Linked DNA regions of Homo sapiens. The protein of the gene in region 1 interacts with the protein of each later gene in a biochemical or structural test. Each region holds a gene or a part of one and is shown on either strand. Other genes may lie near its edges.

Region 1 (3,500 bases):
TCGAAGCCACAGATTGGTTTCCACCTCATTATTTATTGGTGTCTTTCCTTTTTTTTTTTTGAGACAGACTCTCACTCTGTTGCCCAGGCAGGAGTGCAGTGGTGCTATCTCGACTCACTGCAACCTTGGCTCAACTGCAAACTCTGCTTCCTGGGTTCAAATGATTCTCCTGCCTCAGCCTCCCAAGTAGCTGGGATTTTAGGCATGTGCTACCACACCCGGCTAATTTTTGTATTTTTAGTAGAGACGGGGTTTCGGCCGTGTTGGTTGTGCTGGTCTTGAAGTCCCGCCCTCAGGTGATATGCCCGCCTCAGCCTCCCAAAGTGCAGGGATTACATGCTTGAGTCTGGCAAATTGGTGTCTTTCCTAATAATATAATGTAATTTGTGCCAATATATAACCTGGGGGGGAAGAACACCACAATTTGAAACATAACTATCTTATGAAGCTGTCCTGAAACAAATGTAAGAGTTGTAAAATGTAGTTAGGATTATCAGCCAACTATATAAATTAAAGCTTTAACCATGATGGTCTAAAATGCCAAACACACACAAAAATTATTGCTACAGTGAGGATCATTAAAAGTTGGCAGCCAAACTTCAGTGACTTCTCACAAACTACAGTGAGTTTTTCACTTTTAAAACAGTATGAAGCAAGTATGCATTGATCAGTAACTATCATAATTAAAACACTGCATCACTCACTCAAGAAACAATCCCTATATGTAATGACTGACTCTTGTCATTAATTTTTGTTCATTAGCTTGGCCATTTTCTGCAGCTCTTAAGGTTTCAAAAACGTTAAGATATCAAGAAAAGCCCACTGTATACACAAATTAACTCAAGATGGATTAAAGACTTCAATGTAAAACCCAAAACCATAAAAACCCTAAAAGAAAACCTAGGCAATACCATTCAGGACATAGGCATGGGCAAAGACTTCATGATGAAAACACCAAAAGCAATTGCAACAAAAGCTAAAATTGACAAATGGGATCTAATTAAACTAAAGAGCTTCTGCACAGCAAAAGAAACTATCAGAGTGAACAGGCAACCTACAGAATGGGAGAAAAACTTTTGCCATCTACTGATCTGACAAAGGTCTAATATCCAGAATCCACATGGAAGTGAAACTAATTTACAAGAAAACAAATATCCGTATCAAAAACTGGGCAAAGAATATGAACAGACACTTCTCAAAAGAAGACATTTATGCTGCCAAAAAAAAGGAGGTATTTATGCGGCCAACAAACATATGAAAAAATGCTCATCATCACCGATCATTAGAGAAATGCAAATCAAAACCACAATGAGATACCATCTTACACCCGTCAGAATGGTGATTATTAGAAAGTCAGGAAACAACAGATGCTGCCGAGGCTGTGGAGAAATAGGAACGCTTTTACACTGTTGGTGGGAATGTAAATTAGTTCAACCATTGTGGAAGATAGTATGGCAATTCCTCAAGGACCTAGAACCAGAAATACCATTTGACCCAGTAATCCCATTACTGGGTATATACTCAAAGGAATATAAATCATTCTCCTATAAAGACACATGCACACATATGTTTACTGCAGCACTATTTACAATAGCAAAGACATGGAACCAACCCAAATGCCCACCAATGACAGATTGGATAAAGAAAATGTGGTACATATATACACCATGGTATACTATGCAGCCATAAAAAAGAATGAGTTCATGTCCTTTGCAGGGACACGGACGAAGCTGGAAGCTATCATCCTCAGCAAACTAACACCAGAACAGAAAACCAAACACCACATGTTCTCACTCATAAGTGGGAGTTGAACAATGAGAACACATGGACACAGGGAGGGGAACATCACACACCAGGACCTGGGGCCTGTTACCCGGGTTGGTGGTGGGGGGAAAGGGAGGGAAAGCATTTAGGAAAAATACCTAATGCATGTGGGGCTTAAAACTTAGATGATGGGTTCATAGGTGCAGCAAACCACCATGGCACACGTATACCTATGTAACAAATGTGCACATTCTGCACATGGATCCCAGAACTTAATTAAAAAAAAAAAAGCCCACTGTGCTCCACTTGATACAATAAATCAATTCCTGGGTATCATGTAAATCAGTGTAACAGTAAAAAATGACATAAATCATTTTCATACTTACATTATAATTTCAGATAGCCACAGCGGGCAATACTACTATTCCCGAGACTTAACAAAAACATTTAAGTATTCAGCAAAATCTAATAAGCATATACAATAGCACAATCTTAAATTAAATTTTATTGCTTCCTCCAAAGGAAAACAGCTTGAAAACACAGAAGCCACTGAAACTTCCTTCAGCCACTTTTCTGTGATTCAACCAATGAAATCGTTTCTTAACAATGATTCATACCACTTTCTTACACATTTAAACAATTCTTTGGTGACGCAGAGAACCACCCTAATTCTTGTTTTTCAACTTTCTAATAATCTTAAATCAAATACACCAGTAAACAAAATTCTGACTGCGAACGCAGACGTTTATCACACATATAAAAAACGTTTTTTTCCTTTATTTATTTATTTGAGACAGCGTCTCGCTCTGTCGCCCAGGATGGAGTGCAGTGGTGCGATCTTGGCTCAATGCAACCTCTGACTCCCGGGTTCAAGCGTTTCTCCTGCCTCAGCCTTCCCATTAGGGGGGATTACAGGTGCTCGCCACCAGGCCCGGCTATTTTTTTTTTTTTTTTTTTGTATTTTTAGTAGAGACGGGGTTTCACCATGTTGGTCAGGCTGGTCTTGAACTCCTGACGTCGTGATCCGCCCCTCCTGGCCTCACAAAGTGCTGGGATTACACCGCGCCCGGCCACGTTTTTTCCTTCATTACTTTTTGTTTTTGAGACGGAAGCTCACTTTGTCGCCCAGGCTGTAGTGCAGTGGCCCCGATCTCAGCTCAATGCAACCTCCGCCTTCCAGGTTCAAGCAATTCTCCTTCCTTAGCTTCCCAAGTAGCTGGGATTATAGGCACGCGCCACCATGCCCGGCTAATTTTTGTATTTTTAGTAGAGACGGGGTTTCACCATGTTGGCCAGGCTGGCCTCGAACTCCTGACCTCAAGTGACCCACCCGCCTTTATTACTTCTTTAGTATCATGCACGGAGGATTCTTTTCAATCTAGGTACATACATATTTTTAAGTAGTATTCTACATTTTCTTCTATTTTAGAATTTTTATTGCTCTTTGTCATTTAGATTTCCTTTGATTTTTTTTAGCCTATGAGGCAGAAAACATTTTTAAAAAATGGATAACCAATAGTCCTAGCACCATACATTGAACAAGCCACTTTCTCCAATAGTCTACAATATTATTTTTTACCACATATTCGTAGTTTTCCACCTTGCTGGCTAAATGAACTTAAAAGTTATCGTATCTCTGTGTTTCAATTTCTTCACCAAAAAGTAGAGATAATAGTTCACTTCATAGGGTTACTGTGAGAATTAAATAAATTGAGCACTTAGAACAATACCTGACA
Region 2 (2,749 bases), on another chromosome or scaffold:
TTATGTTCTTACAATCAAGAATTCCTTCACCAGATGCGAGACTACTCAGCAATAAGAAGAAATGAACTATCAATACACACAATTTAGATGAATCTCCAGGGAATTATTCTAAAGTGAAAAAAAATCGCATACTGTATGATTCCATTTATGTAATATTCTTGAAATGATAAAAGTATAGAAGTGGTTGCCCGGGGTTAAGAAGTGTGTGAGGGCAAGAGGGAAGTAGGTATGCCTATAAAAGGGAAACATGAGGGATCTGTATTACGGGTCCTTGTGGTGATAGAACTGTTCAGCATTGTGACCTTATGCATCTCAATGTCCTGGTTGTGATACTGTACTACAGCTTTGCAAGATGTTACCTTTGGAGGGGAAATGGGTAAAGGGTACACGAGCTCTCTCTGCATTATTTTTTACAACTGCATGTGAATCTACAATTGTCTCAAAATTAAAAGTTTAATTTTAAAAAAGATTTCCCACCAGAAACAACGTAGACTTCACACTTTCTTCAAATGCATTCTTTTTATTTGAGAAGGATGATCTCAAGGCAGTGCCCTTTGGGAAAGATGTCTTTCATCATCATGTACATCAGGATCAACCATTACTTTCAGCAAAGTACAAAAATACACACGTCAGTGACTTCCGTACAATAAATACATAATCATGCATCCCACAATAAAAGGCACCGAAAACTGGTCACTTAGTAGTCATAAAAATTACTAGCTACATTAACAAAGCCACCAAAATTATCTGTACAAGGAAATGTAACAATATATTCCAAAGGTGAAAACACATAAAACATCTTTAAAATAGTAGGCAATAAATATCTCAATTGTATATATTTTTAAAATTATGCCATTGTAAACAGCATGTAAACAAACAAAACTCACGTTGTCTTACCATTACTAAAAGTAATTAGAGCCAAAGTTATAACCTCTGCTCTGTCAGGTATATTTCACTGGCAAGTGTGCTAAGCAGTTAAAAGTTTCACTCTTTTCTGCAGCAAACAGAGCCCACTGTGTAATAAATAGATAGATATTATCTGCATCTTTCAGACACAAGTGCTTAGTTTCAAAACAGACTACCAAAATGTAGTAAATTCCTAACTATAAATAATACGGCAAGGCTAAATTTAAAATACCTTTTCCAATGTAAGGGACAAAAGGAACTATACTGTTGTGTTTTCAACATGATAATAAACAAGAGGCAAATGATTTCTGGTTATCTTTATCGAAAGATAAAATGAATGTGCTGAATGTCAGGGTAAAGTGTCCAATCTTTTGAGCCTCCTCCTTTTGTGGACCTTGTACAAAGTCAAACAAAGAGTAAAGCTGTATCACACTAAGAATTTTCTTTTGCTAGAGAACATAGAAATGGATGATACTTAATACTGATGGAAAACAATGACTTCAAAATATGCCTATCAAACTGTGAATACACATACAAGTCGGGTTTTTTTCCACACTTACTGACAATAAAGATACAGTTTTTTCCTTCTCATGAAGGAACCCTATTGCCTAACCATCCATAAATATCTAGAGAATTTTTTAGAACTAAAAATATTTTTGTTTCACCTATGTATTAGTGCCTCATGGCACACAAGTACTAGTAATATTTACTATATGCTTAGATACGTATGCTACCTGTTAAATATTACCGCCTACTCCTCATTCAAAATAATCAAGGAAACATCAACGCACATCTTCAAATGGAGCCTCTGAAGTATACCAGAAAGCATTACTTTTTCCCTTCTACTGTGGGTTTACCATGCACAGCTCTTATATATTTTGGTGTGTGTGTCATCAAAAGGCATATATGCCTTCCCAAAATAAACTTTAAATGTGAGTTCACATTCTACAGATCTATCAGTCACTGGGATCACATGTACGGCTGTGGAAATAGGATTGATGAAATATGTACTTGACAAAACAGTCAAAATTATTGGTGGCTGATACAAAAATGTAAAAATTGTGGACATAAAAATGGGATTACCTCTTTATGATAAAATAATTTGGTTAGTTTTTTTGGGTGGAAGGAGACTCCTCTCTGAAGTAACCTGAAAAACACTCGGTTTATAAAAGTCCTCCTAATACCTTAAACAGACTGTGGAAAAATAACTGTGAAAACAAACTTGGACTCTACCAGATGGGAGCTTTGTCTTATTTTATCTGTATCCCCAGAATCTAATTGAGTGCCAAGTATAGAGCAGGTAGAAAAGTCTATCAAGTGAATGAAGGAACAGGGCATTTCAGTTAATTACAATTATTTTGATTTTTTTTCTTTTTTTTGAGACAGAGTCTCACTCTGTCGCCCAGGCTGGAGTGCAGTGGTGCAATCTCAGCTCACTGCAACCTCCGCCTCCTGGGTTCAAGCAATTCTCCTGCCTCAGCCTCCCGAGTAGCTGGGATTACAGGTGTGCATCACCATGCCTGGCTAGTTTTTGTATTTTTAGCAGAGATGAGGTTTCACCATGTTGACTTGTCTCGAGCTCCTGACCTCAGGTAATCCACCCACTTCGGCCTCCCAAAGTGCTGGGATTACAGGTGTCAGCCACCACACCTGGCCCTGATATTTAATTTTAGAAATTATTAACTTGGAAAAGCTTTCTGTGTTAGCCTTTATGAGTATTTGGTGATATGGTAGAAAGGCTTTATCTAATCCCAAAGAAAAACAGGCCCAGAGGTAATAGTTTTTATTTTTAGTCTTTATATTCTATAGAGGGTGATAAGAGTCACAAGCCTTCTTATGTTTA
Region 3 (3,500 bases), on another chromosome or scaffold:
CATTCTTTAAGATTAGTTCATTTACAGCTTTTATGGAAACAATTTTGTCCGACATCTAAATATTGGTAGTTCTCCACTAAGCTGGATGGCTAAGTATCAATACTAATTCCATAACCATTTCTACTTCTGTAAGTAGTCAAACAAATGGAATCCTAGCTCTCTTAATTCCTTTCCAGGGCAAAGTAGAATGTAAAAGACTCCAATTCTTCATCCAAATCTGACAAACCTACTGGTATCTGTTAAATGCCATTTCAGTATGTATTATCAAACTACCAGCACGTCTCTGACCTAGAAGAACTCTGTCAACATAAAAGACATATATATAAATACTTCACAAAATACCATCACATTTGTAGAAAATAAAAAACTTCACAAAAAAGCATCTTCTGTTTATCAAGAATATATACATACATATCCCTGACTATTGCTCACTTAGTCCTATAGAATAGAAACATGCCCCATCCTCCATGACGTTTTTCACATTGCATGCCTATATCAAACATCTCATGTACCCCATAAATATATACACCTACTATGTACCCTCGAAAATTAAAAAGAAACAGTGTTGATGAAAAAATGCCCTAGTGGGGTCCAGAGAACTTCATTTATTAATAGTTTCTTCCCATTCAGTCAGTCCATCCTCCGGATTGACAAGTTTCTCCCTCAACACAAATCTATGTTCCTGGTTAAAATACCATAATCCTCAACACCTTCAGACCAGTTTCCTATACTCAACTGAGTACACGGTGCAATTTCCTATATTACTATATAGTACATCTCTTAAGCACGACATACACATGCTTTTCACTATTAACAATATTCAAAATAGATCATGCCTTCCAACTCTCTATTCACATTCTCTGCTCATGCTGTTCCCCTCCTTTTTGACTTGCTGAATGTACGACTCACCCTTCACACTCAAATCTCTCTAATTCTCCCTGTTCCTCACCTCCAGAATTATTTCTTCAGCTATGTTACCTATTATGTGCTAGACATTATTAGCACAAAGAAAAACAAGACTGTCCTTGCTCCAATGAGAGCTCATCATTCATATTCAAGTTGCGCTGCCGCCAAAACAAAAAACTGTATACACCATTGAAGGAAAACAGTATTACTACATTGTTATACTACGAGTTATACGTCAATGTCCCAACCACAACATGAGCAAGGACTGGGTCTTAGTCACTGTTGTGTATCCGTAAGTCAAAGCACAATAGTGATACACATTAGGTGCTCAAAAATATTTCCTGAATTTAACTGGATTCCTCTCCTCAGTTAATTGTGGTGGTTGGCAGAGTGAAACATAAAACATGATTAAAAACCACCACCACCACCACCACCACCAAAGCTGTGTCTTATACTGAACAATTTCAGAATAAGTTCCTTCCTTGTTGTTACATTTTGTAGTGAATCACCTTACTCTTGTTAACAGCTTCTAGAACGCATCCTTTCCTATTTATATCTTAAAAAAGTTTTATTAAATAAAAACTGATGGGTCTTGCTCCAAACCACCAAAAACACAGACTCAAAACTCATTGGGGATGAATTTGTTAGACCACTATGAGGAATAGGTTGCTCGGAGGCAGAACTGGCTATAGGGAAGCAAGTCATACCATAATTACTGATTTTCACCGTATAGCCCGTTGTAATGGGAGCAACCACAGCAGCTGGTTTTTCATTATCAAGAAGTTCTGCTTTCTTCTGTGATTTCTGTTGCATCTTGTTCTTGATTTCTGTCTCAATCTTGGATTTTTCAGCTGTAAGGGCATCACGTACTCTTTTCCTAGTAGCCTTTTCCAGCAACACCTTTACCTCTTCTAGATCTTTCTGTAGCTGTGTTAAGACAAAAAATAAGTTAGCTATGATAAATAAGGAAATGGCTTGATATTGTGCGTATCACTCATTTCAACTTACTGAAATAAGCACTAAGAATTAAGAAGTTCATCTAAATTTTCTAGGATTGAGTTGCAACTTCAATTCTTCCATCTGGCTTATTAACTGTAATTAACTCAAGCTTCCTTTTTTTCAAAAGGAAAACTTTGAACAATCTTGAACAAACAATAAATAGGTCTTCAAACCTAAATTTTCCAGTTTATGTTTTAAAATATTTACAAGAAACGTCTGCGACCTAAAAAGTAAAACAAAGAACTTTTTTTTGACAAAGGATTCATAGATTTCCTTGTAACATCTAATCCGAGTGTCATTAGATGTTAGACACTTTTAAAATATTTAAGAGATGAGAGAACATGCAGTGACCATGGTAAAATGCTTTTATAGCAAACTTAACTGAGGTAATGAATGCTCCACTTTCTGTCACTGATTGGTCTTCATTATCTTCCCACCTCAAATACCTCACATAAAAAAAGTCTTAATTTTTAAGACAAAAGATAAAAAAAAAAATTTCTGCTTTTGAGGAAAAGTCTTGCTCTGAAGCTGGGTCAGTCTTACACTCAGAAGTGTAGGAGTTGGTTGCACAGAAGGTGACAAAAGACCGAAAATGCAACATACTCTTGGAAATTATCTTTTGAAAAAGCCACCACGTTCTCATTTTCTTCTCTTGCCAATCCATCATCTATTAAAGTCTACTACTTTCTACTTTCTAGAGATAGAGGCAACATTTTATGAAATTCAAGAGTTAAAGACAATGTTAGAAAATTATTGAGCCTAAGTTTTTTTTCCCCCAATTACCCTCTGACATACTGCAAATACACAAGATCTTTCCAAACAGCTGTTTCACTTTTCTTACAATAACTTTACACTCTGGCTTGACACTACCAACTTGACCAAAAAAATCTTGTGTCACAGCTTGATATCAAAAGCTCAATTTAAAAAAGTCTTTTAGTGCTTTATAACTCAGAATATCAGACGCACAACAGAGTTTGAAAGCCTGTTTCTTAATAGTCTTATAAAATGCAATAACAGAACTAATTCTTTTCTTTTACTACAAGTCTTTTGTTATCTCATTTAACTCAGATGCCCTAGTTTTGCCTATCTATAACAGATGACATGGTATAAAAAGTTCAACTCTGGCCAGGTGCAGTGGCTCACACCTGTAATCCCAGTACTTTGGGAGGCCAAAGCGGGTGGATCACTTGAGGTTAGGGGTTCGAGACCAACATGACCAACACGGCGAAAGCCCGTCTCTACTTAAAATTCAAAAATTTGCCGGGTGTGGTGGCACGTGCCTGTAATCCCAGCTACTCGGGAAGCTGAGGCAGAAGAATCGCTTGAACCCGGGAGGCAAAGGTTGCAGTGACCCGAGATCGCGCCATTGCACTCCAGCCCGGGCAACAAGAGCAAAACTCGGTCTCCCAAAAAAAAAAAAAAATCAACTCTGCCCAACCCTCTTGTCCACACTCTCGACCCTTCCAAGAACAGCTCATATTACTATGACAAAAAATCTTGCAAACTCATCTTTTGAGCATAGAACCAAAATGTTTCAGTTCAAAGTAATATTTTTATTGTAATGGTTTCAAAAAAACGCTGATTCTACAACTCCT
Region 4 (3,986 bases), on another chromosome or scaffold:
ATGAATTGTTCTGAGATAGCCTCATCTTTGAATTGAACTAATAACATTATCAGTCTCATAAAAGATTTAATAACAATTCATATAAGCAGTAGAGGTCCTAGCATGTAATACATGCCCCCAGAACATTAGACAATATTATTTATTATTTCTCAGAAGTAGAAATATATATTTAGCTACAGAAAATTTTTCAAACCTGGCTGTTATATACATAATATTTATAACATATAGATTTGCTTGAATTTATAGTACTATCTTAAATTATAAATATATTATCTGCATTGAATATTGGTATAGGGATCCAATGATTATAAGGTATATTGTTGTTAAATAACATAAATAACATAGAGTACTTTATATTTTCAAAAATTAATGCACTGTTTGTCTTTACAAGGCAAATCTTGACATTCTTTCTCAATTTGGAGAATAAAAAATTATCAGGCTTTTCAACATTCTTCTACAAGTTAATAAAACAGAAACAAAAGGAGACTTGTGAAAGAATGTCAAATAATTAGAAAAATGTACAATTTATTAATATAAATGTATAAAGCAAATAGAACACATTCATTTAAGCTAGACAGACGTCGACACAAACTTTCAAATTGGATTGTCAGTTTCATCAAATTTGGAATAAACAGAAAAATACAGTATTTACAGATTTTAGTAAAACTAAACAGAAATGGTACAAGAAGGAAATTTATTTTTCACAGAACAAAAATGACAATTTTGACTCAGGTACCCACATAGGAGCAGGTGAAGTTCTCAAAGGACAACTTTTTTTGTTGTTGTTTTTTTGGTAAGCAAATGAAAACCAAGACATATTTTTCTGCTCTTTTATTTATATTGATGAAACCTCAAAGTCTGTACTCAAATACTTATTAAAATATATCCATACATATATGATTTCTTGTCAAAATGCATCATTCTTCTTCAAATACAAAAACAAAAATATTTTCACTTTCCTAAAACCATCACTTTTTCTTAGATCACACTTTTATCTTTCTTCTGAGTATAGCCCTGGAAAAGCAGTTTGAATGCAAAGCCCCTTGACAAAATATCTGCTTTTTAAAAATGTTAATTTAATACACAAGAAAAAAAAAGCCTCTGGGAGAAGAGGATAAAGAAGTTAGGATTTCTAACTCCTAGGCTAAAAAACAGCATATCAGAAAGCCATTCAATTTCCTTTACAATGCTGATTAAAGCCTTCATTTTAATCTTCATTATAAATGGAGGACATTAATCCCTAAGCTGTTTTTAAACAATTAATAGTAACCTTCTTCAACCCTATCCATGATTTCCCTGAAAAGCAATAGTTGAGTTCTATTTATTCAGTGTAATGGACTGGCATTTCATTTTAAATAAAACCATATAAGCATGTCTCTATGTGAGATATAAATGTTACACTCATCTATGTACATAATGCTATGTCGTGGAGAAATTACAGTAGTAAAATAATGCAGTCTTTAGCAATGTCATTTTGAAGTAAATGATAAAAAGAGTAGATGCTTGAACCACCTTAGAAAACAAATTACTATACTTTCTAGAACAATCAAAGCATTGGGTTTAATATCTCATTCTGCTGAAATAGCTTATAGAATCATAAATAGCTGATGCACAGTTCCTGTAATTAAGATTAGGCAGTTAAGAACAGTAAATCAAAGTTTCTTTGGGGTCCATTTTGAGAAAGTAATATAGATTTTTGTCATTTGCATGGCTTTATAGTAAAGTTAAAAAAACATACACAACTACACATACTGACTTCTGGAGTAGACGCTCGGTGACTTCTTTCCGGTGTGATAACTTTTTTGGGTTGTGCGATGGGAAGGTATCGAGTATCTGTAGCTACTGCTCTTTTCGTTGCAACAAAAAACGCAGCAGAACAGAGCTCCTCCAACAATCAGCACCAGTGCCGTGGTCCATCCTAAGTAGAGAGCTTCTCCAAGCTCACGTTTTTGGGCAACATTCACTATTGAGTTATAGAAATCTCTGATGATGGCATTGGCAACCCAGCTCACAGGGATGAGCACCACCATGCCCGTGATGATGAAGATGATTCCAGCCGTCAGCAGAATGTGAGCCTTCACCTTCTCATTGTCCCCCGTGCACCTGGTGCATTTCATGCCAAGGATGGCCATCATGAAAGCCAAGAAGGACATCACGGAAGCAGCACACATCAGTCCTCTGGCTGCCTGTAGGTCCGGAGAAAGAGCCAGCAGGGAATCATAGATTTTGCACTGCATCCTGATGTTAGCCTGCCTCACGCAATTCATCCACAGTCCTTCCCAGAAGTTTTCAAAAACCACGATGTTGTTTTCAATGAAGGCCGACACTCTCCACTGAGGCATGACAGTGACAGCCACTGTGCCCACCATTCCAACACCACCAAGAAACAGCCCAGCGATTTCTAAGGCATGGGTTGCCATTATCCTCTGGGATGAGTTTTAGCCAGCTGGACTCCGGAACTGCTACTTCTGCTTTGAAGCAGGGTTCTCTGTGCCACAGAAGAGAACAGTTTTTCCTGTAGTAATGAACTCGGAACCCAGTGGTTTTTCAAATAAGAGCTGCTTTGCTACTTCTGGCCAGATAGTATCCAGTGCTGGCTGGCTGAGATGGCCCTGCTATTGGCTGCAACAGGTAAACTTACAAATCAGGTGTGGCAACTTTCTCAGCCAATAAAAGGTGGATGGTAATCCAGGTGTGTCTAAACCAACACTTGGGTACTTGGAACAGCTAGACCTGCACATAAACATTCTTTATACTTCTCGGTCTTCCAAGAAGACAGCAGTATGTTTACCTGTAGGCATAGTTATAAGTGGTTGCATAAGCATCAAGAAATGAGCCGATCCCTTGTAATGTGAAAGGTGCACCTTGTACAGGCAATTCTGAAACTCTTAATAAGAGCTGCTGGGACCAAGGGATAAAATAAATTATCTGCCGAAGAATTCTGCAACGCTGTTGAAATGCCAAAGTGAAACGAGAGTAGGGGATTGAAAGATTGCTTTTACCTGGGAAGCCACATTCTTTGGGACACATGTGATCCAAGTGATTGATTTAATTTTTCTACAACTTCAAAGCAAGCTCTACTGTGGTGAAATCAGGGAACAGATCATGCCAGAGGACAAAATAAGCTAAAGTAATTAAATACACAAGGCTGTCCTTCTCCTTGGCACTGAAAACATATTGGAGTTCTTTAAGCCAGAAAAAATACTCATTGACACTTTTCTGATAATCTTCACTTATAAAAACATTTTTTGCCAAAATAAAAATCACCAGATGATTATCTTATGTATCCAGCACTATAGCATTAAAATAAGCTTATGAGCTTATTTTGTGGTGTTATTCTTGCTGCTTTGAATTCCTGGGCTGAAGGAACTAGAATTCTGAAGATGACACAAGACCCTTGGGCCTATACAAATGGCTGATATTTCAAAATAAGATATTTACAAGACAAGGGAACTATATTTACCAAACTGTATTATATTAGGTATTAACCAAATATGTTTTCCTACCTTTTAATATTATGTCTGCAGTAGGACATAGAAACCCCTAAACGCAAGACAATTTGAACTTTCTTCTCAAAATAATGATGCTCTAACAGTAGTGCTATACTAAGCATAAATGTTTATCTGAGAAAATTCGACTAGCAATTTTCTTCTGGAGATCACCTTAAGCTCTCTGTCTGATCTTTCCAAAGTTTAAGCTGCCACTTCATTTTCTTTTCTTCTTAACATCATAAAAAATGATTTTCTCTTTACAGTTTTACTTTCTCTCTGTTTCATTGGACTACCTTAAATCCAAATATGGGAGAAAATCGTTTCTGCTCACTGATTAAACTTTGAGAGTTTCATGGTTCAAAAAATCTGAGTCATTTGTGGATATTATTAAAACAAAAACTATATGGTAGAAAGGGCAAAAGGAGGATCAAGTAGACTGTCTTCTAAAAAAGAGGCAGGACAGACGCACAGTAGTATGAGTTGTTATAATTTTGT

The links.
Region 2: the proteins of TJP1 (region 1) and DGKH interact in a test that uses a peptide from one of them, tested with the Homo sapiens proteins (one large-scale study listed by IntAct).
Region 3: the proteins of TJP1 (region 1) and CACYBP interact in a test that uses a peptide from one of them, tested with the Homo sapiens proteins (one large-scale study listed by IntAct).
Region 4: the proteins of TJP1 (region 1) and CLDN8 form a complex in vitro, tested with the Homo sapiens proteins (2 studies listed by BioGRID and IntAct, with this or other methods).

The regions. Positions count from the first base shown.
Region 1 is NC_000015.10:29,815,969-29,819,468, forward strand, and holds part of TJP1 (tight junction protein 1), read right to left. Parts: intron 1-3,500. UniProt on the Homo sapiens protein: TJP1, TJP2, and TJP3 are closely related scaffolding proteins that link tight junction (TJ) transmembrane proteins such as claudins, junctional adhesion molecules, and occludin to the actin cytoskeleton.
Region 2 is NC_000013.11:42,240,648-42,243,396, reverse strand, and holds the end of DGKH (diacylglycerol kinase eta), read right to left. Parts: 3' UTR 501-2,749; downstream 1-500.
Region 3 is NC_000001.11:175,002,947-175,006,446, reverse strand, and holds part of CACYBP (calcyclin-binding protein), read right to left. Parts: intron 1,834-3,500; coding exon 1,614-1,833; intron 1-1,613. UniProt on the Homo sapiens protein: May be involved in calcium-dependent ubiquitination and subsequent proteasomal degradation of target proteins. Probably serves as a molecular bridge in ubiquitin E3 complexes. Participates in the ubiquitin-mediated degradation of beta-catenin (CTNNB1).
Region 4 is NC_000021.9:30,213,506-30,217,491, forward strand, and holds CLDN8 (claudin-8), read right to left. Parts: upstream 2,593-3,986; 5' UTR 2,421-2,592; coding exon 1,743-2,420; 3' UTR 501-1,742; downstream 1-500.